Homo sapiens: one gene and its partners. The protein of the gene in region 3 interacts with the protein of the main gene of each other region in a pairwise test. Each region holds a gene or a part of one and is shown on either strand. Other genes may lie near its edges. The genes, in order: PAH, ANKRD13A and QDPR.

Region 1 (10,704 bases), on a different chromosome or scaffold from region 3:
GCTGTGCTGGAGAAGGTTTGAGAAGGAAGATCCAGAACTCAGTTTTGGATAGGATGTTAGAGATGTCTTATAGACATCCAAGGGGAGATGTTGAATAGGCAATTCAATATGCAAGTCTGAATTTGGGGATTGAAGTCTTGGCTGCAGATGTAAATGTGTCCGTCATCAGAGTAGAGATGGTATTTAAAGCCATGAAATTGAGTGAGATCACCAGAGGAGTGCTTGTAGACAGAGATGAAGACTATGATTAGACCCACTTTGAAGCAAGAAGCTACATGGTCTGCATCTCTATATCACTCCCTGGGCCAAGTCCAGAGCCTGGTTCAGATTAGGCTTATAAAATACTTTCTGATTTAGAGTGAACCAAATTCAAATTCTTAGCCTGGATCTGCTCTCTCAATTCAACTAGAAACCACTGATAAATCCAAGACCAAAATGGCGCCTTGTTCTCTTAGTCACCATTCTTTGTGAGCCTAGAGTTTGCCTACAACAAGGGGGGCCCCACATTCCCTGTGCTCCAGCCCCACTCCATCCTGTACTGTAGTGGGAAGCAAGTCCTGCCTCTGATCAAAAAGGAATGTTCTCAGGAAACTTTCAACATGACTTGCTGCCTTGGAACTGTCCAGATCAAAGTTGGAACCATGTGACACTGATGCCCCAAGAGCTCCTGTTTGTTGACTTGAGCAACTGTCCACTCTTCTGTGGGGTTCCCCAAAGTGGAAATGGCTTAAGGAGGACTGCCACTTAGCCTCTGACTTCGTAAACTAACTTCTGGTGGTAAGAATAAAAGGTTCCTATTCTTCAAGGAAAAATCTGATTGTTTTTTGGCCACAGTAACAAATCCAGATTTTAAAACTGTCCCAAGCAATCAAAGATATCTTGGCAGCAGTAACCACACTTCTGAATGTCATTGGTGATGCTTCTACAGTTAAAGTTCAACTAATCCCGAAACACTTCCACTTCCAAAAGTCCAACGATCTTTGAACTCCATAATTCCCCAAACCTCACATAAAAGTAATTTTCCTTTTGTTTAGAGAGGCTGCATCTTACAAGTACAGTTTTCCCTCACTTAGCAAGCAATAAATTCCACTTTTTTGTTTGTTTGTTTCAAATATTTAGTGGTAGCTTCTTTATTTGACAGTGGGAATGTTTATTTCTGCCAGCTGAGGGAAAATGCCCATTAAATTCACACACAATCCCATTATTCTGAAATCCCAATACTTGGCTCAGCATTTGCTCATAGGTCATTCCATTTGATTCTTGTGCTTCTTTGTGAGGAAGATGACTGGTGGAGAGGGCTTTTGACTGATCCACTTTTATTAAAACTGAGGCACAGGGTGGCTGATAATGTAACCCCAGGTCACACAGCTGGTTAGTGGCAGGGTTGGAGCCTAGGTACATCAGAACACCATTCAACCTTCTCATGATCCCAGCTACCAAACCATGGTTTTAGGCTGCCTCTCAGTGCCTGGAGAGAATTGGTAGCATTATTTTACTCAGCCCAAAACTTTCTTTTTTGGCCAGGTGTGGTGGCTCTTGCCTGTAATCTTAGCACTTTGGGAGGGTGAGATGGGAGGATTGAGGCCAAGAGTTTGAGGTCAGCCTCAGCAATGTAGTGAGACTCTGTCTCCACAAAAATTAAAACATTCAGCCAGGCATGAAAGTATGTGCTTGTAGTCCCAGCCACTCAGGAGGCTGAGGTGGGAGGATTGTTTGAGCCCAGAAGTCTGAGGCTGCAGTGAACCGTGATTATACCACTGCACTCCAGTCCAGCCTGGGTGACAGAGTGAGACCTTGCCTTAAAAGAAAAAAAAAAGAAAGAAAAAGAAAAAGAAAGCTTTTTTTTGAGCTTGTTAACCACTGTGAAAGATGAATGAAATTCTAGGTTGCAGGGTTGCAGCTTTGATGATGGTGATAAGATATTCAGCTCATTTTTTTCTTTGTTAACTCTAAGTCAGGGTATCAGCATTGGATTCTTGGCAAATGTCACCTCACTTAATTCAAGCATATACACAAATAACTGCCTGACAAGGTAGAAAGTTGCAACAGCCCTGAAAAGGTAAGGGGAATGTACTAAGAGATTGGAAGAAGGTGAGGTAGTTCCTGCATGGGAATCAGGGAGGCTTTCATGGATGAAAGGCTCTAGCAGGAAAAATGAGATTAGTACACTGAAGAACACACATATGATTCAGAGGATGAGTGATTCACCAACCCCATGCTTGATCTCCGAAATGGGTATTTAGCTTCCCAGAACCACACACCCATTTCAGGTGGGATCATAGAACTGTACCTGGTTTCCGCTCTTGCAGAGGGCATGAGGACCCCTCCCTGGGCTCAACTCATTTGAGAAATTCAGGTCACAGACCTATAACTAGAAGGCTAAAAAATCCATTCCTTACCTGGGAAAACTGGGCAAAGCTGCGATCTGAAAACAAGGGCACATGTCCCAACAGCTCATGGCAGATGTCACTGAAAGACAGAAAGCACAGAGAGCTCGGAGGGGAGGAGGTTTAAGCCAAGCCAGACTCAGTCTTTCTACATGAGGAATGGGCAGAAAGAATGGAAATAACTCTTTTAGGCTTATGATCCCTCTCCCAGGAATAAGTGATATGCAGAGGTTGGGATCATAAAAGGCAGGGTACAAGGTAAAAAGAAGAAAAGGAAGGAAAAATAAGAGACAGGTGCAGGGTAGGGCACAGCAGCCAAGGGTCTTAAGAGTATCCCCAGTGGGGTACCAGGCAGAAGAGCTAATATTCCTGTGGACATGCTCCCATATACCTAAGTGAGCTATGAGTCATGAACACTTCTCATCCTGTCTTCTCCCTGGTATTGACTTCCCTGGGCAGATACAATATGCTCAGCTATTCCACTGGGAACTAAAACAAAAACAGTGCTGCTCTTCTGTTAGTCTGGAGGTGGACAGCAGTGAGGGAAGAAAACCTACATTTATTTAACACTGTATGTGCTATGTCCATTTGGAACAGGTCTTTTTGGATTTGTAGCAATGAACTTTATGGGCAAGGAAAAACAATTTTGGATGTTCCATTAATTTTTTTATAAGTTGCATAAGTTTTATCAGACTAAGGGGATAACGAAACACCCAAGTAAGAAGCATAATGGCTGCAATTCTCTACCTCTACCCAATACACAATCTAGGCAAAGAAAGATAAGAGTAATCTAGATGTATACTTAGGAAGTATTGAGATAGCTTGGCTGCCACTTGTTCCTGTTCTCATTTGCAACTTCGTAGCTTTGACTTTGGAACTTGATTGGGATCTCTCATTCTCACTGCCAAGGGAGTTCTGAGTTATTGGATCACAGGATGACCAAATCTCCAATCAGTCTGGTCTATCTACTTGGATGGAGCAAATCTCCAGAATAGATGAATTGTTTTTAGTACTACCAGCAAACAGTCTAGACAACTAGTCCTGTGGACCAGCCAGCAATGAACCCAAACCTCATTCTTGCAGCAGGAAAAGATGGCGCTCATTGTGCCTGGCAACTGGTAGCTGGAGGACAGTACTCACGGTTCGGGGGTATACATGGGCTTGGATCCATGTCTGATGTACTGTGTGCAGTGGAAGACTCGGAAGGCCAGGCCACCCAAGAAATCCCGAGAGGAAAGCAGGCCAGCCACAGGTCGGAGGCGGAAACCAGTGCAAGCTGGGATGAAAAGAAGAAAGAAAACTCAAAGCTCATCACCACTGAGTCAGAGGCACTAGGAGACCTTTAGGTAGTGGAGTAGTACACATAACTGCCCAGGGACATAGGCTTTGACGCTAGGCAGACTTGGCTTCAGATGTCTGCCTCGCTGCTTTCTAGCTAGGTGATCTGGATCAAGTAAATTCCCATTTCTGAGCCTCAGTTTCCTCATCTGCATAATGTGGATAGATACTTCTTAGAAATGTTCCAAGAATAAAAAGAGCTAATGAATACAAAGTACTTAGCACAGAGCCTAGCACATTGGAAACATGCAATAAATTTAGCTTTCATTACCATTTGTTAGGGTGGAACAATGATTCCCTACTTCTCCTGCTTCTAGAGTGAAGAGGGAATTTGAACCTCATTTCCCAGAAGGGAAGAGTATGGATAGAGTGCTTCCAGCTTCTGTACTGCACCTCACACAGTCTACCCCATAAGTAGCAGTGACCTGTCTGACTGGAGCATTTGGGAAGAGAATATGAATATTGTCAATTTAACTCTTTCTGTACTGCTCTTTCTCTCTTGATTGTTCACAGAGGACCTCATTCCAGTCTGCTCTTGGCCATGCAATGGACTATGCTCTATGAATTGGCAGGTAAGTTTACCTAATTAAGGGGTAAAATATTAGCAAGTCCATTTGTGTGCATATCTATATCACATTCTCTAAATCGCTCAATTTTAAAGCTGACCTCTGATCACCATCTCTATGGTTCCTGTATCTGTCTCTCAGTTTGTTGCAAACTTTGGAGGATAAGGATAGTGACAGTGATAATGGTAATAATAGCTAACACTATATTTGACCTACTGTATGTAAGACACTGTTTTAAGCTACTTTAGATATGCTACTAATCCCCACAATAGCCCTATGAAGTAGACACTTTTATTATGCCCACTTTACCGATGGGAAAGCTGAGACAGAGATAGGTTAAAGGTTTTATTCAAGGTCACAGCCACAGGCAGTCTAGCTTCAAAGTCTGTTCTCTTAATTACTATTATGTAGCTTCCCAACTGCTAGTATTACTGTTTTATTATTCTTATTATTGGCCATGGCAATGGAAGTAATTAGCTAAAGAAGTCTTTGAGATCCCCTTGCCTCTTGCCCCCATGTTCTCTGTGTCTTCAGGCTGAAGCACACTCTGCTTGGACCCTTACTCCCTTCTTTATCTAAGAAGCAAAGACTTTCTAATGGAAGGGACCCAAAAGGTCATCTAACTCACCCCCAAACTGTCCTGGCTACAACTTCCCTTCCTGCCAAGTAATTTCCCTGGCTCATTGCCCCCACAGTGGCCCATCTCTGCACAGCTCTGATATATAGAAAATTTTGTAACCTGTAGTCTGTCTCCCCACTTCTGCTTATTCTACCTGGCACACAGTAGGTGTTCAATATGTGCTAGTTCATTATTTTGTTTTTGCTAAATTAACATCCTCTTGACAGAAAGAGTAACACCCATTTCACCTGGATATACTGTACAGAGAGGCTTGCGACTCAATGTACTTACCTATTAAGCTACTCAGATTTCAATTCAGTCCAAATTCACTGAATACCTGCTGTATATGCAAGACTGTGCTGGTTGTTTCCATATGCAGCACCTTACTTCATTCTCATAATTTCCCTATGGGAAAAGCTAAAGAGTTGATACAGTGTCCATTTGACAGATGACAAAACTGAGGCAGGTTTACTCAGCTGGAGAGGATTGAAGGCAGGATTCATACCAGATGCACAGACTCAGAGCTCAGGGCTCTTGGCACCATCCCCGAAAATAGCACATTTCTTACACAAACACACACTCCTAACTCATAACACAGCAGGAACTACAGGGCAAACAAAACAAAACAAAACAAAAAAAAACCTCAGTGAAGCACCTTGGGCTTTAAGTGTGAAAGAAAATACTTTTCAGGGACAGGTACACGGCAAAATCCACAGCCTCAGGTGTTTGATTGAATGAAAGTGGATAAACACAGTAGGGGCTGGAGGGAAGGCAGAGCACAGTGAAATTTAGTTCTTCCTGGAGGAATCAACCTGCATGCATTCCTACAAGCACATGCTTTCATACTTGCCTCCACATACTTGTCTTCCCCTTCCCTCTCCTCTGCCTCAATCCTCCCCCAACTTTCTGCAGGGCCATTGACCCTGATGTGGACTTACTCTGCAGGAACTGAGAAACGTCTTCCAGCTGGGGAATGTTATCTTCATGGAAGCCACAGTACTTTTCAAGAAGTGGAAAAATGTGATTGTACTCATAGCAAGCATGGGTTTTATACAAGGACTTCAGAGTCTTGAACACTGTGCCCCATGTTTTCTTTTCTTCCTCCATGTATTCCACTCGAGGGATGGGCTGCCCACTAGAATACAGGCACAAAATAGGTGTCTCAAGCAGGGCAGGGGCACAGCAGAACGCAGGTTAGGTTAGCAGAGGGAGTCGGGGACCAGAACCTGTGAGCTGCCATCACTTGCTACAGTGAATTTCATACATTATTTGAAAGAGAAAAATTCCACATCTTGATATAGGAAACATTGTTGTTTTGATTTCCCACATGAAAGGGTGATTTGGTTAAGCAGTGATACAGGCTACAATGAGGATTTGCTCTCACTTTCGGGAAATCACTTGGTTTTTCTACTCTTCTAATTCTCTAATTGCTTACCTGGGGTAGAAATTCACTTACCTGCACGGGCCAGTCAGGTATCACAAAGCTGTAAAGTTGCAGAGATTGGCAATAAGGAGAATGGGGGCTGGCAGGAGAATATATTCCCTTTCTAAACCAGGGCATCTAAGTTAAAGCAACACAGTGTATTTTTATGGTGTTAGCTAAAGCAATTAAACCAGTGGGCTAAACTGGATTTAATATGTAGGCCACGAATCTGAGATCCCCTTTGTTTGGTAGGCATGCACTTATTGGGTTTGATATTTCTGCTCCTGGGAAGTTATAAAGGTATTTAAATACATACTAATTAAGATTCCACATTGTATACATATATCAAAACATCATGTTGTACACCATATTTTATATACAATTATATAATTATATACAATTATATAATTGTATATAATTAAAAATTATATACAATTTTTATTTGTCAATTAGAAAACTAAATAAATAAGTTCTAGATCAAGGATAATAAATAAATATTGGAACAAAGGAGAGAAAATAAATATATAAATCCATGCTAAGGTATAAAATGCCTCATACCTTCTCTTCACTGAGCTTGTTCAAGTACATATGCCAGGCCGCATAGATCCTGAATCTCTTGGGGAAGGGAAGGCTCACATATCTGGATTCTAGTAAGCTCCCCAGGTGACTCTGATGCAAACTATAGTTTAAAAGTCGTTAGTTTTAAAAGTCCGGGAAGCTCAAACTGGGTGGAGCCCACCACAGCTCAAGGAGGCCTGCCTGCCTCTGTAGACTCCACCTCTGGGGGCAGTGCATAGCCAAACAAAAGGCAGCAGAAACCTCTGCAGACTTAAATGTCCCTGTCTGACAGCTTTGAAGAGAGTAGTGGTTCTCCCAGCATGGAGTTTGAGATCTGAGAACGTACAGACTGCCTTCTCAAGTGAGTCCCTGACCCCCGAGTAGCCTAACTGGGAGGCACCCCCCAGCAGGGGCAGACTGACACCGCACACGGCCGGGTACCCCTCTGAGACAAAGCTTCCAGAGGAATGATCAGGCAGCAACATTTGGTGTTCAGAAATATTTGCTGTTCTGCAGCCTCCGCTGCTGACACCCAGGCAAACAGGGTCTGGAGTGGACCTCCAGCCAACTCCAACAGATCTGCAGCTGAGGGTCCTGACTGTTAGAAGGAAAACTAACAAACAAAAAGGACATCCACACCAAAACCCCATCTGTGTGTCACCATCATCAAAGACCAAAGGTAGATAAAACCACAAAGATGGGGAAAAAACAGAGCAGAAAAGCTGAAAATTCTAAAAATCAGAGCACCTCTCCCCGTCCAAAGGAACACAGCTCCTCGCCAGCAATGGAACAAAGCTGGACAGAGAATGACTTTGATGAGAGAAGAAGGCTTCAGACGATAAAACTTCTCTGAGCTAAAGGAGGAAGTTCGAACCCATTGCAAAGAAGCTAAAAACCTTGAAAAAAGATTAGATGAATGGCTAACTAGAATAAACAATGTAGAGAAGTCCTTAAATGACCTGATGGAGCTGAAAACCATGGCACGAGAACTACGTGACAAATGCACAAGCTTCAGTAGCTGATTCAACCAACTGGAAGAAAGGGTATCAGTGATTGAAGATCAAATGAATGAAATGAAGTGAGAAGTTTAGAGAAAAAAGAGTAAAAAGAAATGAACAAAGCCTCCAAGAAATATGGTACTATGTGAAAAGACCAAATCTACATCTGATCGGTGTACCTGAAAGTGACGGGGAGAATGGAACCAAGTTGGAAAACACTCTGAAGGATACTATCCAGGAGAACTTCCCCAACCTAGCAAGGCAGGCCAACATTCAAATTCAGGAAATACAGAGAATGCCACAAAGATACTCCTCGAGAAGAGCAACTCCAAGACACATAATTGTCAGATTCGCCAAAGTTGAAATGAAGGAAAAAAATGTTAAGGGCAGCCAGAGAGAAAGGTCAGGTTACCCACAAAGGGAAGCCCATCAGACTAACAGCTGATCTCTCGGCAGAAACTCTACCAGCCAGAAGAGAGTGGGGGCCAATATTCAACATTCTTAAAGAAAAGGAATTTCAACTCAGAATTTCATATCCAGACAAACTAAGCTTCATAAGTGAAGGAGAAATAAAATCCTTTACAGACAAGCAAATGCTGAGAGATTTTGTCACCACCATGCCTGCCCTACAAGAGCTCCTGAAGGAAGCACTAAACATGGAAAGGAACAACTGGTACCAGCCACTGCAAAAACATGCCAAATTGTAAAGACCATTGATTCCGGGAAGAAACTGCATCAACTAACGAGCAAAATAACCAGCTAACATCATAATGACAGGATCAAATTCACACATAACAATATTAACCTTAAATGTAAATGGGGCTAAATGCTCCAATTAAAAGACACAGACTGGCAAATTGGATAAAGAGTCAAGACGTATCAGTGTGCTGTATTCAGGAGACCCATCTCACGTGCAGAGACACACATAGGCCCAAAATAAAGGGATGGAGGAAGATCTATCAAGCAAATGGAAAATGAAAAAAGGCAGGGGTTGCAATCCTAGTCTCTGATAAAACAGACTTTAAACCAACAATGATAAAAAGAGACAAAGAAGGTCACTACACAATGGTAAAGGGATCAATTCAACAAGAAGAGCTAACTATCCTAAATGTATATGCACCCAATACAGGAGCACCCAGATTCATAAAGCAAGTCGTTAGAGACCTACAAAGAGACTTAGACTCCCACACAATAGTAATGAGAGCGTTTAACACCCCACTGTCAACATTAGACAGATCAACAAGAAAGAAAGTTAACAAGGATGTCCAGGAATTGAACTCAGCTCTGCACCAAGCGGACCTAACAGACATCTACAGAACTCTCCACTCCAAATCAACAGAATATACATTCTTCTCACCACATTGCACTCATTCCAAAATTGACCACATAGTTGGAAGTAAAGCACTCCTCAGCAAATGTGAAAGAACAGAAAATATAACAAACTGTCTCTCAGACCACAGTGCAATCAAACTAGAGCTCAGGATTAAGAAACTCACTCAAAACCACTCAACTACATGGAAACTGAAGAACCTGCTCCTGAATGACTCCTGGGTACATAACGAAATGAAGGCAGAGATAAAGACGTTCTTTGAAACCAATGAGAACAAAGACACAACATACCAGAATCTCTGGGACACATTTAAGGCAGTGTGTAGAGGGAAATTTATAGCACTAAATGCCCACAAGAGAAAGCAGGAAAGATTTAAAACTGATACACTAACATCACAATGGAAAGAACTAGAGAAGCAAGAACAAACACATTCAAAAGCCAGCAGAAGGCAAGAAATAACTGAGATCAGAGCAGAACTGAAGGAGATAGAGACACAAAAAAACCTTCAAAAAATCAATGAATCCAGGAGCTGGTTTTTTTGAAAAGATCGACAAAATTGATAGACTGCTAGCAAGACTAATAAAGAAGAAAAGAGAGAAAAATTAAATAGACACAATAAAAAATGATAAAGGGGATATCACCACCGATCCCACAGAAATACAAACTACCATCAAGAATACTATAAACACCTCTATGCAAATAAACTAGAAAATCTAGAAGAAATAGATAAATTCCTGGACACATACACCCTCCCAAGACTAAACCAGGAAGAAGTTGAATCCCTGAATAGACCAATAACAGGCTCTGAAATTGAGGCAATAATTAATAGCCTACCCACCAAAAAAAGTACAGGACCAGATGGATTCATAGCCGAATTCTACCAGAGGTACAAGGAGGAGCTGGTACCATTCCTTCTGAAACTATTCCAATCAATAGAAAAAGAGGGAATCCTCCCTAACTCATTTTATGAGGCCAGCATCATCCTGATACCAAAGCCTGGCAGAGACACAACAAAAAAGAGAATTTCAGACCAATATCCCTGATGAACATCAATGCAAAAATCCTCAATAAAATACTGGCAAACCGAATCCAGCAGCACATCAAAAAGCTTATCCACCACGATCAAGTGGGCTTCATCCCTGGGATGCAAGGCTGGTTCAACATACACAAATCAATAAATGTAATCCAGCATATAAACAGAACCAAAGACAAAAACCACATGATTATCTCAATAGATGCAGAGAAGGCCTTTGACAAAATTCAACAGCCTTTCATGCTAAAAACTCTCAATAAATTAGGTATTGATGGGATGTATCTCAAAATAATAAGAGCTATTTATGACAAACCCACAGCCAATATCATACTGAATGGGCAAAAGCTGGAAGCATTCCCTTCCCTTTGAAACCTGGCACAAGACAGGGATGCCCTCTCTCACTACTCCTATTCAACATAGTGTTGGAAGTTCTGGTCAGGGCAATCGGGCAG
Region 2 (10,704 bases), on a different chromosome or scaffold from region 3:
GCGTGGTGGCGCACTCCTGTAGTCTCAGCTACTGGGGAGGCTGAGGCAGGAGAATCGCTTGAACCCCAGAGGTGGAGGTTGCTGTGAGCCAAGATTGTCCCACTGCACTCCAGCCTGGGTGACAGAGCTAGACTCTGTCTCAAAAAAAAGAAAAAGGAAAGAAAATTTCCTTAGTCTGACTCATTCTTGGAGGTGTTTCCCCATAGTTGGCCTCAGCTGTAATTAAAGCTATTCGTGAGGGCTTGTTTATGTGTTATCAAGAACAATTGTTGAATTCAGCCAAAAAAGGAGATAAGGACATTTGAGAATATTTATCATTGGAATGAGTGATTTAGTCCAAACTATTGTGATGAAAGATTTAGACAGAACTTGGGGTCCAAGCAAAAACATTGCATGTGGTTGCCACATCCCAGCCCCATCCCAGCCCCACCAGTTCTATGGCCTTGTGAAATTACTTCTGCTCTGTGCCTTAGTTCCTCAGCAGTGAAATGCAGGTGATACCCAACCTTCCTTAGAGTTATTGAGAGGATTAGATGAGTTACGACGTGGAAGCCTTTAGAATGGCGCCTGCAGTATGTGGTAAGCATGCAGTAATTGTTCACCAGCACCACCACCACCATTGCCATTACTCCACTTTGACAGATGAGGGAACTGAGGCCCAGAACACATGGGTAGCGAGTGGCCAAGGTGGGGTTGGAATCCAGGTCTGGCTCACTCCAAAATCCAGACTCTTCCCATTATTCTGCTTTAATTCTTACAACTGTTTATCTAGTTTAGAGATCCTCATGAAAAGCACCCTATAAAGGATAAATTAGTTTATGGTTATTGTGAATGATTTGATCAGCCAGTCTGTAATTGCATTTCCTAATGAGGTAGCTTGGACCAGAAACTTTAATGAAGATCTTTTTTTTATAGCCACAAGTGAGATATAATATTAGACTTTAAACTCCCTACCCCTCTGTAGCAGACAGGAACCCGCTGGAATCTTTGCTGGGAACTGTGGAACACCAATTTGGTGCACAAGGGGTAAGTTGAAGCAATGAGCTTTCATTGCAGTTAGATGAAAGGAAACAACTTGTCTGTGTCTGGGATGGCATTTACTGGATCCTGAACAGCCCACTCTATGTAAAGGCCAAAGATACCCCCAAGCTGGAATTTGAGATACTCTTTTGGAAGAGAATTAGATGAGTGACTCTTTGAAAATAAATAAGGATTTTAGAGGAGGGGTAGTGATTATAGAAATCAGGTGCTTTCCCTCTTATCCATTATAAACGAGGGGCCTCTTTATAGAAATGGAACTTAAAAAGGATTCAGGACTTTATATTGCAACAGAGCACCTTAACAAATATTTTCTTACTTGATGCTCACAGTAACTATATGAACTTGGTACAGTGGATGTCCCTGCGGGTCAGAAAAATGAAATTACCTTTCCACTATCAAAGCTAGACAGGGAAACAGCTAGAACTTCAACTCCAAGTCTTCCAAGTCTCATGCACTTTCAGATATTTCTTTCTTTTTTTCTTTGTTATAATCAGGAGATAAAAATGTAAAGGAGAGTAGAGAAATATTTTAAAATGAAGAAATCCATTACACTTCCTGTGTAGTTTGGTGATATCCTCATAGATTTTCTTGTTCCATGCAAAAAAGTTAGTGAATAGAACTTCCCGGTCTTTAGCTGGTTAACACGTCCACCTCAGACACTGAGTGCCACAGGCCTTCACTTGTGAACATCATTTGGCATTTCTGACTCTCCTGAGTTCTGGCTCAGCAGGACCTCACCACGGAATGTGCTACTGCAAACAACCCCACAGCCATCACGCCTGATGAGTACTTCAATGAAGAGTTTGATCTGAAAGACAGGGACATTGGAAGGCCGAAAGAGCTGACGATTAGAACACAGAAGTAAGAGAGGTTCAGCTGCCATTTTCAACCTATGTATGTTTCAGAAATTGTGCTGTTTTATGGTGTTATGTTGGATCATTCCACTGCCCTCCCCACCACCCTTATTTTTTTTTCAGACGGAGTCTCGCTCTGTCGCCTAGGCTGGAGTGCAGTGGCACGAACTCGGCTCACTGCAACCTCTGCCTCCCAGGTTCAAGCGGTTCTCCTGCCTCAGCCTCCTGAGTAGCTGGGACTACAGGCGCGTGCCACCACGCCCAGCTAATTTTTGTATTTTTAGTAGAGATAGGGTTTCACCATATTGGTCAGGCTGGTCTCGAACTCCTGACCTTGTGATCCGCCCGCCTGGGCCTCCCAAACTGCTGGGATTACAGGCATGAGCCACTGCGCCCAGCCTCCTCTGCCCCTTTTTATAAAAAATAATTTTAAAATTACTTTGCCATGAAAGCTAACAGTAGATTGTCCATGTTATTAGCTCCTTTCCAAATAGAATCTAGATTGGATGTAAGAATTCCTTTTTTTTTTTATTGCTAACCAGCTTCAGCTGATCAAATTCAAATGAAACTGTTCCACCCGCTATCATTTCTTCATGCTTGCTGTCAATTAAGGCTTTGATCGTGGCAGGTTGTCATGCAGGTCGCTTGCCTTTATTGCCAGATTTTAGGGTGATGTGAATTCCTTGTGGCCCTAGACATTTGACCTTTAATAGGTCTGAATTAAGAGATGACTGGGCAGAGTGTGGAGTAAAGCTGCTGTTGTCTAGCCTACTGCATAGCAATAATCTCCTTTTCCCATCTGGTGGAGATGACCTCAGTCTTTTCTTGGTTGAATTCTGCAGGTTTAAAGCAATGTTGTGGATGTGTGAAGAGTTTCCCCTCTCTCTGGTGGAGCAGGTCATTCCCATCATTGACCTAATGGCTCGAACGAGTGCTCATTTTGCAAGACTGAGAGATTTCATCAAATTGGAATTCCCACCTGGATTTCCTGTCAAAATAGGTACTGCTAAATAAACTTCAGCAACACTTGGAGGTTCTGCCCATGTTTGTGGGTGGCAGCATGTGGGTGGCAGGATGCTTCAGGGAATTGGAGTGCTTTAGGTCAAAGTAGCTTATAGACATAACAGAGGAGGTCAGAGTTCTCCTGTGGTTTGATTTAAAGAAGTGTTATGATTAGTGGTTCATTTTGTGTATCAAAGTCAAGAGATCTCCAACCATCATTTCTATTTGCAAATGGTGCTGACAGATATAAAAAGGCATAAAAACATGACACAGTCATTGTTTTAATGTCAAACCTTAATTCAGTGAGACTTCAAATTAGATAATTATTTGAGGAAGACAGTTGACACCAAGATCCTTTGATATGTAAATATGATCTACGTCCCAAGCTAGTATGCATAATGCTATATATGTATATATCATACATACTACTCATGAAGAGTATTAATTTTGGATAGTTGTATGTTCATGATACTTGAACCCTGGCTTGATCACTTACTCACTGTGATCTAGGAGAAAATACATAACTCATTTTCTCTTTTTTTTTTTTGAGATGGAGTCTCGCTCTGTTGCCCAGGCTGGAATGAAGTGGCATGATCTTGGCTCACTGCAACCTCTGCCTCCTGGGTTCAAGCGATTTTCCTGCCTCAGCCTCCTAAGTAGCTGGGATTATAGGCATGCATCACCACGCCCAGCTAATTTTTGTATTTTTAGTAGAGATGGGGTTTTATCATGTTGGTTAGGCTGGTCTCGAACTCCTGACCTCAGGTGATCAGCTCGCCTTGGCCTCCCAAAGTGCTGGGATTACAGGTGTAAGCCACCGCGCCTGACCGAAAATACACAACTCTCAATCTCAGTTTTCCCGTCTGTGTATTGGGAAGGGTTGTTATGAGGCTTAAATAAAATTATACTTATCAAAGTACTTGGCATAGTAAGCACTTAGTAAATGATAACTATTATTGTTATTCTCAGTAAAGTTTACTTATAAAAGTTTTTATTTTGTTTGTTAGAAATTCCCTTGTTTCATGTCTTAAATGCACGGATTACATTTGGAAATGTTAATGGCTGTAGCACTGCCGAAGAATCTGTATCTCAAAATGTGGAAGGGACCCAGGCTGATTCAGGTAAAAAAATAAATAAATACAAAGTTTAGTTTTGTTATTTAAAAAAAAATTTATGGCCGGACGTGGTGGCTTATGCCTGTAATCCCAGCACTTTGGGAGGCCGAGGTGGGTGGATCACCTGAGGTCGGGAGTTTGAGACCAGCCTGACCAACATGGAGAAACCCTGTCTCTACTAATAATACAAAAATTAGCCGGGTGTGGTGGCGCATGCCTGTAATCCCAGCTACTCGAGAGGCTGAGGCAGGAGAATCGCTTGAACTGGGGGAGAGGCGGGGGGATGGAGGTTGCTGTGAGCCGAGATTGTACCATTGCACTCCAGCCTGGGCAACAAGAGCAAAACTACATCTCAAAAAAAAAAAATTATAATTCAGTCATCATATTCATAATTCACTCTGAAGCTGGAATATCTGAGGGAGTAGATGTCTGTGTTGGATGAAAGAAAATTTCAGATTTAGTTTAGATTAAGCAAAAAAAAACTTGTAGAATATATATGATCCTAGTTATATTAAAAAGAAAGGATGTTCTTAAAAATCAGCTTTATTGAGGTGTAATGTACATACAATAAAATGCTCTCATTTTAAGTGTGATGGTTCAGTGCATTTTTTTTTTTTTTCTCAGAGTCTCACTCTGTCACCTAGGCTGGCATGCAGTGGCACAATCTCTGCTCACTGCAGCCTCTGCCTCCCAGGCTCAAGCGATTTTCTTGCCTAGTCTCCCAAGTAGCTGGGAATACAGGTGCGTGCCACCATGCCTGGCTGATTTTTGTATTTTTATTAGAGACTGGGTTTCACCATGTTGGCTAGGCTGGTCTGGAACTCCTGACCTCAAGTGATCCACCCAGCTCGGCCTCCCAAAGTGCTAGTGTGAGCCACCATACCCAGCCACATTTTGACAAATGTATGCATCTGTGTAACCACCACCATAGTCAAGGTAGACAGCATTTCCATATGCCCCCAAATTTCCTTACACTCCTTTGCCATCAATACAATTCATGATTTTAGATGCAATTGTAAATGGACTTATTTTCTTAATTTCATTTCCAGTTACTAGTATATAGAAATATAATTGAGTTTTGTATTTTGACCTTGAATCGTTTTTAAAAATTTTTTATCTTTTTTTTTTCTTACACAATTGCATGGCCAGGATTGACCTTGTTTATCTTGTAACATGGCTGAATTTACTTGTCTTACACTTTTTTGTAGATTTCTTAGAATTTCTTACATATATGGTCATGTTGTCTATTAATAAAGAAAATTTTACTTTTTCCTTTCTAATCTTTAAGCTTTTCATTTCTTTTTCTTGACTTACTGGACTGGCTAGGACATCTAGTACAATGTTGAGTAAGAGTGGTAGGAATGGCTGTCCTTGTCTTGTTCCTGGTTCTAGGGGAGGAAGGATTGTTGTGCCATTAGGTATGATGTTAGCTGTGTAGGTTTTTTATAAATGTCCCTTATTAGTTGGAGGACATTATTCTCTTATATTTCTAGTTTGCTGAGAGTTATTACCATTTTTAAGTATTGATTTTTGTGAGATGTGTTTTCTGCAACTATCATGATGGTCCTATGTTTCTCCCCTGTAGTCTACCAGTAGGAGGAATTAAAAGATAGCATTTTAATGTATATAAATTAAGACTTCAAATAAAAACAATTGAACTCGACAATAATATACACCTTTACATTCCCATGTAGCAACAAAGTTGGGTGAGATGTGTTCATGAGGTTGTGCAGCTAAGGAACACTCGTGCACTCTTGGCTGGAAGAGGAGATTGGTATAGTTCCTTGAATAAAACATTCGGCATTACTGTATAAACTGAAGATGTGGATGACCTAGCAATTCCTAGATGTGTACCCTAAAGAAAGTTATGCACATGAGCATCTGGAGACCCCAGTACTGGGCAGCAGCATCCATTCATAACAGCAGAAACCTGGAAACGACCCAAATGTCCCGAGATGGTAGAATGCGCTATTGTGCTCTATTAATACAACAGAATAACATATAGTATTGAAAATAAAAATTTATAGCTATGTGCGTCAAAACTGTTGAATTTCAAAAGCATAATGTTGAATGAAGAAAATCCAATTTGAAGAATAAATTCCGCATGATTCCATTTATGTCGAGTTCACAAACAGGCTAATACAAACTATTAGGATGATATACATGTGGCAAGCTCCAGAGAAGAGCTAGGCAGTGTAAACAACTATTCTGAATTATGTATTTACCTCTGGAGAGGAAGAAGGGAATATTGTTAACAAGGGATGTGCCCGCAGTATGGTATTGATAGTGTTTTTTTCTTTTTCTTTTTTTTTTTTTTTTTTGAGACAGTCTTACTCTGTCACCCAGGCTGGAGTGCAGTGGTGCGATCTTGGCTCACTGCAAGCTCCGCCTCCCGGGTTCATGCCATTCTCCTGCCTCAGCCTCCCGAGTAGCTGGGACTACAGGTGCCCGCCACCACGCCCGGCTAATTTTTTTTTTTTTTTGTATTTTTAGTAGAGACGGGGTTTCACCATGTTAGCCAAGATGGTCTCGATCTCCTGACCTTGTGATCTGCCTGCCTCAGCCTCCCAAAGTGCTGGGACTACAGGCGTGAGCCACCGCGCCCGGCAGTTATTGATAGTGTTCTGTGTCTTAGGCTAGGTGAAGGGCACACAGGCATTTGTTTAATTATTATCATTTTTAAGTGTTCAGATATTTTATATATACTTTTATATATTTACCATATATCTTCCTGCAAAAGGAAGAAACACATTGGTGTGACTGTGCGTATATGTTTAGGGGGAGAAATCTGCGCTTTTCATTTTATAGTCTTGTGTATTTTTTTATGACTGTGTTCGTTGTTTCCACTAAAATCAAGGAAAAAGAAAAAAGCTGTATTCTGTCACTTTTTTCTGTCATGCTTCCTCAGAATCTCTCATATAATAGTAAGCCTTGATTGTTATAATTTTGAGCCTTTCTTTTTTTTCTAATGTACAACATTTTTGCAAAAAGTTGGAGTGGAAATGTAATGAACTCAGACACTGGACGGTTGCCTTTTGTTTCAGCTTCCCACATCACAAACTTTGAGGTTGATCAATCTGTGTTTGAAATTCCCGAATCTTACTATGTTCAAGACAATGGCAGAAATGTGCATTTGCAAGATGAAGATTACGAGATAATGCAGTTTGCCATCCAGCAAAGTCTGCTGGAGTCCAGCAGGAGCCAGGTGTGTTTATCAGAATACTCTAATGGCAGGGCGTGGGAGGTCTTACCCTCTGGGTTAGCCTCAGTGTTTGGCTAATCTGAAAGATTTATTCTAAATATCAAGTTTGACACATTCATGGTATTTGCATAGGTTATACTTTGTGCATCTGGTCTTCTTACAAAAGCTTGTTATGTAAGAGACCATCTACATAATCCCAGTCAGCACCATTCACAAGATGTCTTCAGGCAGACTTTCCTTTTCCTCATATTCACGCACATAGCTTGTAATTCTGTACTTTTTGAGATGTGCTTCATCATTTTCTAGCACTGAAGCAGTATCATATTTTTCCTGAAGGATTACCTGTGTGTCAGTAGTCTCGGATGAAGGTAGTGAAGTGGATTTGAATCCCACTTCCTCCACAAAGGGTACCATCTCCCTAAACTCTCTCTGGGTCTCTAGTGAAACAGAAAATGAAGGACAGGACAGACCTGTGTAAGCAGTAGGCTTTGTGTGTGTGTGTGTGACTCTATGTTGCCCAAGTCGGAGTGCAGTGGCTGTTCCCCGGCATGATCATATTGCACCCTCAAACTCCTGGGTTCAAGAGATCCTCCCACCTCAGCCTCCCAAGTAGCTGGGACTAAAGTCATGCACCACTGTGCCCAGTAGAACAGTTGCCTTTTATTGTCATATCTGGTTCTCCCTCCATGCCTCACCTACCTGGGACAGTCCAAGGCTTGAGGTCCTCCTCCCCTAACATCAACTCCTTCCATCTCCTTCCTTCTGTGCCTCCTGGCTCTACTAGGGTAGGGTCTGGTCTGCCTCCAGCACCCTCTGGTGTGTCCTGGGTTCCTGCAGTCCATTTATTTGTTAATTGGCTTTTTCTTCCATTCTTCATTCAGATATTTGCAGAGTACCTTCTTTGTGCCAGGCTCTGTGCCAGGTGCTGGGAATTCTCTGGGAAGCAGCCCCTGCCCTCACAGGGCTGCTGCTTTGAGAACAGTGCTCACACTCCAGCGTCCTCACTGGTTCAAGCTTATAGCTTTCTGGTTCTATTCCTGAGTCTTAGTGCTTGTGTAATGTGAGTCTACCTCCTCCACTTCCCCCTGCCACCACCATGGCCCCATTCCCAGACCCATTCAGTTTTCCGAGCCAGACCCCAAAGCAAGCATGTTCCCTTTGGGAGGCATCCTGGGAGAAGACCCCTGCACATCACCATCAGCCTGGTATGCTTTTCCTTTCCCTATGTAAGTGAGCTTAGCTCCCCCCGCCAGCTCCCAAGTAGCTTCATAAACCTTGTTGACCATAAGTTTTAACAAGGGAAGTAGCCAAAGTCAAAGACTACCAGTATTGAATTGTGTCTTCTAATCTTGCCCTAGAAGAATTACTGGCTGGGTGCAGTGGCTCATGCCTATAATCCCAGCACTTTGGGAAGCCAAGATGGGAGGACTGATTGAGCCCAGGAGTCTGAGACCAGCCTGGGCAACATAGTGAGATCCTATATCTACCAAATTTTTTTTTTTTTTTAATTTTTGAGGCAGAGTCTCACTCTTTTGCTCAGGCTGCAGTGCAGGGGCACAATATTGGCTCACTGCAGCCTCTGCCTCCCAGGTTCAAGTGATTCTCATGCCTCACCCTCCCGAGTAGCTGGGATTACAGGTGCGCACCACCAGACCCAGCTAGTTTTTGTGTTTTTAGTAGAGACGGGGTTTTACCATGTTGTCCAGGCTGATCCCAAACTCCAGACCTCAAGTGATCCACCAGCCTTGCCCTCCCAAAGTGCTGGGATTAGAGGTGTGAGCCACCATGCCTAGCCTCTACCAAAAAATTTTAAAAGCCAAGTATGGTGGTGTGCACCTGTATTCCCAACTAGTCAGGAGGCTTAGGTGGGAGGATTTCTTGTGCCCTGGGGTCAAGGCTGCAGTGAGCTACGATCACATCACTACCCTTGAGCCTGGACAACAGAGTGCGACCCTGTCTCTAAAAAAACAAAAACCTGCTTTGGTCACTTGAACTTTGCCCAAGGTCAGCTGTGTTTTTGCTTTTCGTTGTGTATATCTTCCACGTGGGTTAGCTGTATTTAAGAGACTGATTTTGTACAAAGGATGAGAAGGTTGTGGCTGTGAGTTAGGCTGTGGCATGTTACTACCTCCCACTTAGGTGTTGTTTTTGAGGTAACCCAAGTCCCTGTTAGCTTTTCACACAGCACTATTGATAATGGTCATGGAAAGACTTTTAATTTGGTTCTTGCTGCCATCGTTTCCTTACCAGAATGGCACCAATTTCTCCTAAGACGTATTCATGTCTATCACATTTGTCTTTGCCAGGAACTTTCAGGACCAGCTTCGAATGGAGGGATCAGCCAGACAAACACCTATGACGCCCAGTATGAGAGGTGATTGACTGACGTGACTCTGGAATAAACCAGGGTGAACACAGGCCTGGACACAGGCGAGCAGACGCGTGGCACTGTGCATTTGGTCCTCAGGCAGATGTACGGTGCCACAAACTGGCAGGAAAGACTAGAAAAAGTAGGCCAGGAGCGGTGGCTCACGCCTATAATCCCAGCATTTTGGGAGGCCGAGGCAGGCGGATCACGAGGTCAGAAGATTGAGACCATCCTGGCTAACACGGTGAAACCCTGTCTCTCCTAAAAAAAATACAAAAAATTAGCCGGGCATGGTGCCAGGCACCTGTAGTCTCAGCTACTCGGGAGGCTGAGGCAGGAGAATGGCAAACCCAGGAGGCGGAGCTTGCAGTGAGCCGAGATCGCGCCACTGCACTCCAGCCTGGGCGATAGAGCGAGACTCCGTCTCAAAAAAAAAAAAGACTAAAGTGTTGGCTCTCTTGCTTCCTCTTGTGGCAGTTACTTATAATAACTCTAGACTCTTGATAGCAAGTTTCCAGGAATGGGTGATAGAATTGCTGACTGGTTCACAGGTCAGTGCCATTGGGGGAAACGTACTGAGTCAGTTTTTTCTGATTGGTTTGATCTTCTATGAATGATGTATGATCACAGGGCCTAGATGTCCTCAGTGGGAAGTTTATATAATTGTAAAGATAAGGAAGTTTGGAGGAACAGCTCCAGAGATTACGGGAAAAACCGCGAGGATTCATTTTACGAAGACTTATACTTAAGGTGTCTATGAGAGCCTGTTGATGAAGAACCTGAGTTTTGCTTTAAAACAGATCCAAGTTCAATTCCCAGCCCTATCACTTACTGGTTGGGTGGTCTTGGGCAAGATTGTGGGGTTTCTCACCCGTATACAACACCTACACCGCCAGTTATGTGGGATTAATTGGCATCATGCATATTAAATGCCTGGCACAGTGTGCCCTTGGTAAGCGGTTAAGAAATGTAGTTACTGCTGCCACCATGATGATGATAGTAGTGACTCTCCCTTTTTATCTGTTTTCCAACCCAGGGCCATCCAGGAGAGCCTCCTCACCAGCACAGAAGGCCTGTGCCCCAGCGCCCTGAGCGAGACAAGCCGTTTTGATAATGACTTGC
Region 3 (8,695 bases):
CACTGTACTCCCGTCTGATTTAAGGGCTCAGTCTCACAAGACCTACCCTACTTCAGATGGCAGTCACAAGTCCTGGGCCACTTAGACTTCTGACCAACAAGCTTAATCAGGGGTTTGCACAACCCCCTCTTCAGGTGCAATAATTTGCTAGAATGGCTCGAAGAACTCAGGCAAACGCTTTTTTTATAGTTACTGGTTTATTATAAAGGATACAACTCAGGAACAGCCAGGTGGAATGACACAGAGGCAGGGTAGGAGAGGGGGTGGGCATGGAACTTCCACGCCTGCTCCAGCCACGCCACCCTCCCAGTGCCCTCCATGTGTTCAACCCAGATGCTTATCACATCTGTAAGTTTTTATAGAGCTTAATCTCCAGCCCCTGCTTCCTTCCAGGAGGTCGGTAGGTGGAGCTGAAAGTTCTAACCTCCTAATTGCTTGGTCATTCTAAGAAGTAGCTCCATCCTGAGGCTGTCTAGGGGCCCCAACCTACTAATCACCTTATCAGTATAAACTCAGGTGTGATCCAGAGGGGCTCATAACGACACACAGGAATAGAGTACTTAATTGTGAGCATACCCTTAGCACAGGACAGGCACTCAATGAAGGTTTCCCATCAAATCAATAGAAGTAATGTGCCCTGGAACCCGACTACCTGGCTTCGTGTCCAGGCTCTGCTGCTTGCTAGTGACTGACACTGGGAGAGGCTACTAAACCTTGGAATCCTCAGTTTCCCATTTCGTGAAATGGGAATGACAATCCCAAATCCTAAGGATAATACAACAATCAAATAAAATACCATGTACAAGTGTAGCAGACAGGGAGGGTCTCCAAGGACTATAGGAGTTTCATCAGCTTGAACAATCAGCCTGTTTCACAGGCTCCTGCCCTTCAGCCTGGTTTTTCCCACAACTTGCATGGAATGCAGTCACCAAGTCAGGTGAAACCAGCAACTTATAGAGATGATCCCAAGTGGACTTTCCTCATTACCATGCTACAGTCTCCACCCGGGAGGAGCTACAGCTTCATCACCAGAACATGTGACTATGTGCTGGCGTGATGACTCACTGCATCTGTGCCACTGGGACCCCTCCTCCACATGCAATGACACACCCTTTCCCCTCTCCATCACCCCATGAAACCCTCCTGGGAGAGACGCTGCTTTGGAGAATACTTCCAGCATCCTCCTTAATTATGTCAAGTAATAAAACTCCATTGATTGTTTTTTTTCCAGGTTAACAAATCCCCTTTGTACAGTACTGAGCACAGAGGAACACTCAATCCTGGCCATTATTGTCATTCATGACTCTCAGCAGGTCACTGGCAACTCTTTTTCCTCGGACAGCAATAAGGAATTGCAAAAAGGGTCATCAACTTGGAATTCAAAAAGTGCAGCCCTAACTCCTGTTTTTCCAGCCACCAAAAAAAATCACAGGTTCTGTGGGCCTGCTTTTCCATCTGTCAGTGGGAGTGGTAACTCAGATCACAATTTATTCACAAGGCTCTGCTGAGGATGGAAGGAGACTGCATCCAACAAGGGCCTTGGAAACCATGGAGGGCACGCACAGAACCCGATCAGGGCGGAGGGAGCCCAGCCTGGTGTAGGAGGGGCTTTGCTCAGCACCTTGCCAGGGAGATGTTCTCCCAGTGACTGCGGCAGGGAGGGGGTGATGCTTCTCCCACTCTCCCAGCTCATCATTATTCATATTATCATAGATGATTCCTCTCCAGATCAAGCAGTCATCTGCGGCCCATCCGGGGCATTTCCTTCCTTATCAGCAGTGGAAGGACTGTGGCATGACGGGGATGGTGACAACTCTGGCCTTAACACCATCAAACCAACCTGCCATCACTCTGCTGCCTGTAAAGCCAGAGCCTGGAAAGGGGCTGCCAGGGTCTGCCTGCTCCCGGGCATCAAAACCCACTTACCCCACCCCATGTCATGGAGCCTCTTCTATGTGGGAATCCCTAGGCTCAGTGTTAGAAAGACGAAGAAGCACAAGGCAGCTCCCTGGCTCCCAGGAACGGCACAGCACACCAGAAAGAACCCAGAATCTGGACTTCGAGGCCAGGGGTTGGAACCCAGGTGATTCCTCACCACTGTGACTTGGGCGAGCAGCTCTTTCAGCCTCTGGTTCTTCCCTGCTAAATGGGATCCAATGCTAAGCTAAATAGGCTTTCCTGAAAACGACATGAAACGTGACACATCTCATAAACTCGAAAGGGCTCTTTCATTCCCAGAAGAATGTAAGTTCCACAGAGGCAGGGATTTTTATTGTTTTGTTCACCAATGTATCCCAAACCAAAAGGTGGCAATCAATAAATACTTTATTTGGCCAGGTGAGGTAGTTCAGGCTTGTAATCCTAGCACTTTGGGAGGCTGCGGCAAGTGGATCTCTTGAGCCCAGGAGTTTGAAACCAGCCTGGGCAACATGGTGAAACCCTGTCTCCACAAAAAATACAGAAATTAGCCAGGTGTGATGGCGAGCGCCTGTAGTCTCAGCTACCCGGTAGGCTGAGGTGGAAAGACGGCTGGAGCCCCCGGGAGGTCGAGGCTGCAGTGAGCCAAGATCACGCCACTGCACTCCAGCCTGGGTGACAGAGCCAGACCATATCTCCAAAAAAAAGGAAAATAAATAAATAAATAAATAAATAAATACTTTATTCACTGCTTTCAGAAAAGAGCAATAGGTGGGTTTCTCAAAGGAGGATAATGGGGCTTAATCAAATGGTGGCCACTCAAAAACTGTGGGAATGAAAAAACAAACTGGGGCCAGGTGCGGTGGCTCACGCCTGTAATCCCAGCACTTTGGGAGGCCAAGGCAGGTGGATCACCTGAGGTCAGAAGTTCAAGACCAGCCTGACCAACGTGGGGAAACTCCGTCTCTACTAAAAATACAAAGTTAGCTGGGGGTGGTGATGCATGCCTGTAATCCCAGCTGCTCCAGAGGCTGAGGCAGCAGAATTGCTTGAACCAGGAGTCAGACGTTGCGGTGAGCCAAGATTGCGCCATTGCACTCCAGCCTGGGCAATAAGGGCAAAACTGTCTCAAAAAAAAAAAAAAAAAAAAAAAAAAAAAAGAACAAACTGGTAGCTCTGTTCATTAAAACTATGGTAGGTGATTCTCAGTAACTCGTGAGTTTCTCAATATTCCAGACAAACTAACTTTTAAATTATTTAATCTATGATGAAGTGAAAAGAATAAGGCATGGAAAAGCCTCTATCGAGTCATCAAATTATGGTGCTTTTCTTTTTTTTTTTTTGAGACAAGCTTACTCTGTTGCCCAGGCTAGAGTGCAATGGTGCAATCTCAGCTCACTGCATCCTTCACCTCCAGGGCTCAAGCAATCCTCCCACCTCAGCCTCTTTTTTTGTTTGTTTGGAGACAGAGTCTCACTCTGTCACCCAGACTGGAGTGCAGTGGCGCAATCTCGGCTCACTGCAACCACCGCCTCCCAGGTTCAAGCGATTCTCCTGCCTCAGCCTCCTGAGTAGCTGGGATTACAGGTGACTGCCACAACAGCTGGTTATTTTTGTATTTTTTAGTAGAGATGGGGTTTGACCATGTTGGCCAGGCTGGTCTCGAACTCAGGTGAACCACCCGCTGTGGCCTCCCAAAGTGCTGGGATTACAGGCATGAGCCATCGCGCCCTGCCAAATTATGGTGCTTTTTAAAAAGTATGTGAATGTGACATGGGCACACACTAGAATGGGCACAGAATGCTTCCCAAAGGACACCTGAGAAGCCATCACTGTAGTTGGGCCTGGGAGGGAGTGCCATAGAGATCAGCGGTGTGAGTAGGAGAGAGTCTTCCTATTCATTGTGTTTCTTTTAGTGCCATGTGAATTTTTACTACATGCATTGGTTAGTTTTCCAATTTAAAAACTGATTAAATTATTTAAATAAAAACTAATACAGTGCCTTGTCTTTTCCCATAAGCTCTATTTGTCAAAGCAAGTCCTTTTCCAAGACCCTGTTTGAATCAGCTCCCTCAACAAAACCTTTTCAGAGGTGGACTCACCCCCACCAAGAGCACTCCGCTTAGACCGTAATGTAGCCCGGTCTCACACTCACACCACCCGCACCCTTGCTGCCGGAGGAGGCTCTGAATATAATTATATTATCTCTATATAATTATATTATCAGTAATTGCTATAATTACTGATTATAATTATATATTAATTACTGATCAATGTATTACTCAGACCAATCTGCTACTAACTAGCTAGGTTGTCTTAGACAAGGCACCTAAAATCACTGAACTTTTTTTCCTCCATAATCAAGGGAAAATAATAGGACCTACTTTACAGATACCTCTGGTGATGAAATAAGATCAAGCTTAGCCCAACAAGCCAAGCACCCAGAAGACAGATGCCTAAAAATATTTCTTTCTTTTTCGCCAAGTCTGTTGAGGTATAACTGAAACACAATAAACTTAAACACATTTAGGGTGTACCATTTGAGCAAATTTTGACATTGTGTATACCTGCTACCTATTGGTCTTCCTTTCCTCCCACTATTCGATGGATATTTGCTGACAGAAGCAAGGGATGTCTTTTATTAAGGTAGGTTTCCCTCTGCCCCGCAGGCATGTGGCAGGAATGGAGTCTTTCCTCTTTATGTTCCCCCACTGTGCCCAACTGTAGCTGCTCACTAAATGCTGCTATCACAGAATAATGATAGCAAGAAGGAATGATGAGTCACTGTAAACTTCTCCACCTTCTGAAAACCACTATTTCTTCTAGAGGTCATCAGGCTCCCTAAAATCCTCGGCACACACACTGTTTAAGATGTAATTGCTGTGGAGGCATCGCAAGTCCAGCGGGAGGTGGGGGGATGACAGCCCAGCCAAGGGACCAATCACAAAACTGCTTCAACAACTACCTCAAATTGCAAAAGAGGGTCAAGGTCTCAAAGAGCTATTTGGAAGCACAAGAAGAATATTTCGCCATCCTTAGCTTCTCTGTTTAATCAGGGGGCATAACAAACTCTTCAGTGATTAAAATAAACCAGGGCATAAGTGCTCATTAACCCAGCCCTGGTCCTCAAAATCCCAGAGCTCTCTCTTGACTCCATTCGAACAACACAACACAAGAGCAGGGACTCTGACAAAGGAAAGAAACAAGCAAATAGCAACCGTAATGGCTTAATTCTAAAGAATGACCTTTCCTTGGGGACACAAAAGGGGTTATTTGCAAGATATGAAAAAAAAGACATTTCACTAAGAAGGTCAACACTTCCAAATTACTGAATGATCAGTGTGGTCCCCCAAAACTGATTTCCAATCACAGCACAGATCCTTTAATGGTAAACAAAAGTGAACACCATTTTAATACTGTTTGTCCTACAGAAGACAGTCTAGAAATACAAACTTGGAAATAGGAGGGTGAGGTTTTCTCAGTATCCTTCCAAGTGAAAAACTTCTGATGTGCAAACAAATCTTCTTGAGTTTGAGGGACTACTAAGCCTGATTCATCATTTACTTTCAAATTGTAGATCTATTTCCCCAGATTTTTCTGAGGTCTGCAGCATACTTAAAAGATCTCATGACTCAAATTATTAATAGCTTAACAAAATCTAACTTAAGAGGTTAAAGATGAACAAATTCATTAACATCTGAGGCAGAACAGCTGGGCAGAAATAAGCCTGGAGTAAATAATAATAATGGCTCACACTTACTATTGACTCTCTGTAATACCTTTCTCATCCATTTAGATCCATTGAGACATTTACAAGGTACAACCACCATATATATAAAGGAGACACTATTTTATCTTATTTTACAGATGACAAAACGCAGACTCAGAAAGGCGAAGTAACTTGCCGAACGTGTCACAGTAAGTGGCAGAGCCTTAAGAGAAGTCCAACGTGCACAGTTCCAGAGCCTGCAGTCTTAACCACTACCCAAAATGTAATCAAAGGATACCTGCAAACCAAAGGAAAGTAGGAGACTCTTCTGTCATTTAGAAAAATCAGTCTTTTGGTCCTAGGGTTTTGTTTTTTAAAATGTCAAGCTAAGACTCATTTCTCTGTTTACTTTCTACTGCCTCTGTTCCGTGTCATCTTAAATAAAAATCAGATCTCAACCAACCAGACAGCTAACATTTACACAGCTTTAATGATTGCTATAGCCATGGACTTGTAACATCACATGCTCTAAGAAATGGAAGAAGAAAATGAGAGGGAAGGTATTGCTAGTAGTCACAGCCTCACAGTTCAGTGAGTTACATTAAAATTGAGAAGGGGCCTGGCGTAGTGGCTCATGCCAGTAGTCTCAGTGCTCCGGGAGGCCAAGGCAGGAGCATCACCTGAAGCCAGGAATTTGAGACCAGCCTGGGCATCATAGCGAGACCCTGCTTCTACAAAAAATACAAAAATTAGCCAGGCATGGCAGTGTGTGTCTGCAGTCCCAGCTACTCAGGAGGCCGAGGCAAAGGATTGCTTGAGCCCAGGAGTTCCAAGCTACAGTGAGCTAGATCATACCACTACATTCCAGCCTGGGTGAGACCCTGTCTCTAAAAAAATAAACAACTGAGAAGGGTCCCAAGGTCTCTACCACTTACAAGAGAGTCAAAAAGAGCTCCCCCCACCTTTTTTTTTTTTCTTTTGAGAGGGAGTCTTGCTCTGTTGCCCAGGCTGGAGTGCAGTGGCGCGATCTCGGCTCACTGCAAGCTCCACCTCCTGGGTTCACGCCATTCTCCTGCTTCAGCCACCATCACGCCTGGCTAATTTTTTGTATTTTTAGTAGGGACAGGGTTTCATCGTGTTAGCCAGGGTGGTCTCAATCTCCACCTCATGATCCACCCGCCTTGGCCTCCCAAAGTTCTGGGATTACAGGTGTGAGCCACTGCACCCGGCCAAAAGCTCCCATTTTTTTAAAAGAAGAGTTCAACTTAGGTAGTTGAGGTAGACACTTTCTGCCTCCCTATGCTGCCCCTTTCTACCCCTGCTTAAATTCCTTTAGCCCTATCCCACAGGGAGTGTTATGGGCTGAAATAGATCCCCCCAACATTCGTATATTGAAGTCCTAATTCCCAGTACCTCAGAATGGGACTGTATTCGAAGATCTTTAAAGAGGCAACAAAGTTAAAATGAGCCCATTGAGATGGGCCCTAGTCCAATATGCCTGGTTTCCTTAGAAGAGGAGGAAACGAGGACAGACACACAGAGGGAAGACCACATGCAGACAAAAGGAGAAGGCAGCCATCTATAAAAAAAGAGGATTCAGAAGGAGCCAGCCCTGCAGATACCTTGATCTCCAGACTTTTAGCCTCCAGAGTTATGAGAAAATAAATCTCTGTTGTTTAGGCCACCCAGTCTGTGGCTACCCAAACAAACTAATACAGGTCATAAAAAATGCAAAAGAAATGACATAATGGAAAAAATACACAGTTGGTAGATGATTAGGGTTTTGGTTCAAGTAAGTCTGCAACTTACTTCCTGCACAAACCCAGACAAGTTACTTAACTCTCCAAGTTTTAGTTTCCTAACCTGTAAACTGAAAAAGATAATATTGATGAGATTAAAGTGAGAATATATGTGAAATGAAAAGAGTGACTATAAGACCTACCATTTATTGTGAATAACAGTAAGACTTGCCATTTATGGGTGCCTACCATGTGCACTTTCTACATAGCTACACCTCTACAGTTTTACAGTACTCTTCAAGTTAGATGTCACTGTCACTATTTTACAATTAAGGAAACTACAGTAGACATCTGGTCAGAGACTGAAGAACTGGTTCAGGGTCACACATCTAGGATAAAGAATCCACCCCCAACCCTCTCACTCTCTTTTTGTTTTCTAATGTAGAGATAGGGTCTCACTATGTTGCCCAGGCTGGTCTTGAACTCCTGGGCTCAAGCAATCCTCCTGCTTCAGCCTCCCAAAAGTGCTGGGATTACACGTGTGAGCCACTGTGCTGGCCAAATGAACCTCTCTCATTTTAAACTTATGCTATTTCCAGCTGCTAAGCTGCTTCCCTGGAACACATGGATTCAATGTGATAATAATAATCCATGTTTATTAATTAATTAATATCCACTAAACCATTCATTCCAGTGTAGATCACAGATAAATAAACTAAATGGGGGTTACCAGATCATAGCGTTCCTTACCACCACCATAAACATAAGGACAGGCAAACAAAAGATCAGAACTCTTCTCCCTAAAATGATTCAGGCCCAAAAGAAGACAAAATCCATCTATCTGTTAAGCAGCTTAGAGGGTAAAGGCTTTAACAGTCCTCATCCCATGAAAGTGCCCAGCAGCCCCAGCAAGCAAGGTAAGCAACCCCACTCCACAGATAGGGAAATAAAGGCTTACCAGGAGTCCCATCCAGGGCAGCCTTTGCGCCAGCCAAGGTCAGGAGGCCTCCTTCCTTGAGATGCTTGGTAGCCAGATGGCTGGAGATGGTCGATGTCCATATGCTCTGCTTCCACATCAGGTCACAGTTCTTAAAGAGAGCTGAGTGAAAAAAACATGTGGGCTCAGCATTCCCAGGAAAGAAACCAAAAGGTGAGCTCAACTCATGCAGCCCCACACTCAGGGAGGCCCTCCCTCCTGGTCCCCAGGTCCCTATCTACAGCAAGGTCTAACACAAACAGCACAGGGCTCAGTGGTCAGAGACACAGGTTCAAATCCAGGCCATGGGATTGCCTGAGGTTCAGCTTCCTTACCTATACACTGGCAAAATGT

Evidence for each region.
Region 1: the proteins of QDPR (region 3) and PAH interact in a two-hybrid assay, tested with the Homo sapiens proteins (one study listed by BioGRID).
Region 2: the proteins of QDPR (region 3) and ANKRD13A interact in a two-hybrid assay, tested with the Homo sapiens proteins (2 studies listed by BioGRID).

What each region holds. Positions count from the first base shown.
Region 1 is NC_000012.12:102,849,288-102,859,991, forward strand, and holds part of PAH (phenylalanine-4-hydroxylase), read right to left. Parts: intron 6,046-10,704; coding exon 5,849-6,045; intron 5,515-5,848; coding exon of another isoform or gene 5,498-5,514; exon of another isoform or gene 4,541-5,497; intron 3,664-4,540; coding exon 3,528-3,663; intron 2,470-3,527; coding exon 2,400-2,469; intron 1-2,399. UniProt on the Homo sapiens protein: Catalyzes the hydroxylation of L-phenylalanine to L-tyrosine.
Region 2 is NC_000012.12:110,026,741-110,037,444, forward strand, and holds part of ANKRD13A (ankyrin repeat domain-containing protein 13A), read left to right. Parts: intron 1-964; coding exon 965-1,026; intron 1,027-1,768; coding exon of another isoform or gene 1,769-1,771; coding exon 1,772-1,902; intron 1,903-2,737; coding exon 2,738-2,895; intron 2,896-3,904; coding exon 3,905-4,018; intron 4,019-5,706; exon of another isoform or gene 5,707-5,970; intron 5,971-7,056; coding exon 7,057-7,217; intron 7,218-9,520; coding exon 9,521-9,588; intron 9,589-10,618; coding exon 10,619-10,704. UniProt on the Homo sapiens protein: Ubiquitin-binding protein that specifically recognizes and binds 'Lys-63'-linked ubiquitin. Does not bind 'Lys-48'-linked ubiquitin.
Region 3 is NC_000004.12:17,493,396-17,502,090, forward strand, and holds part of QDPR (dihydropteridine reductase), read right to left. Parts: intron 8,465-8,695; coding exon 8,324-8,464; intron 1-8,323. UniProt on the Homo sapiens protein: Catalyzes the conversion of quinonoid dihydrobiopterin into tetrahydrobiopterin.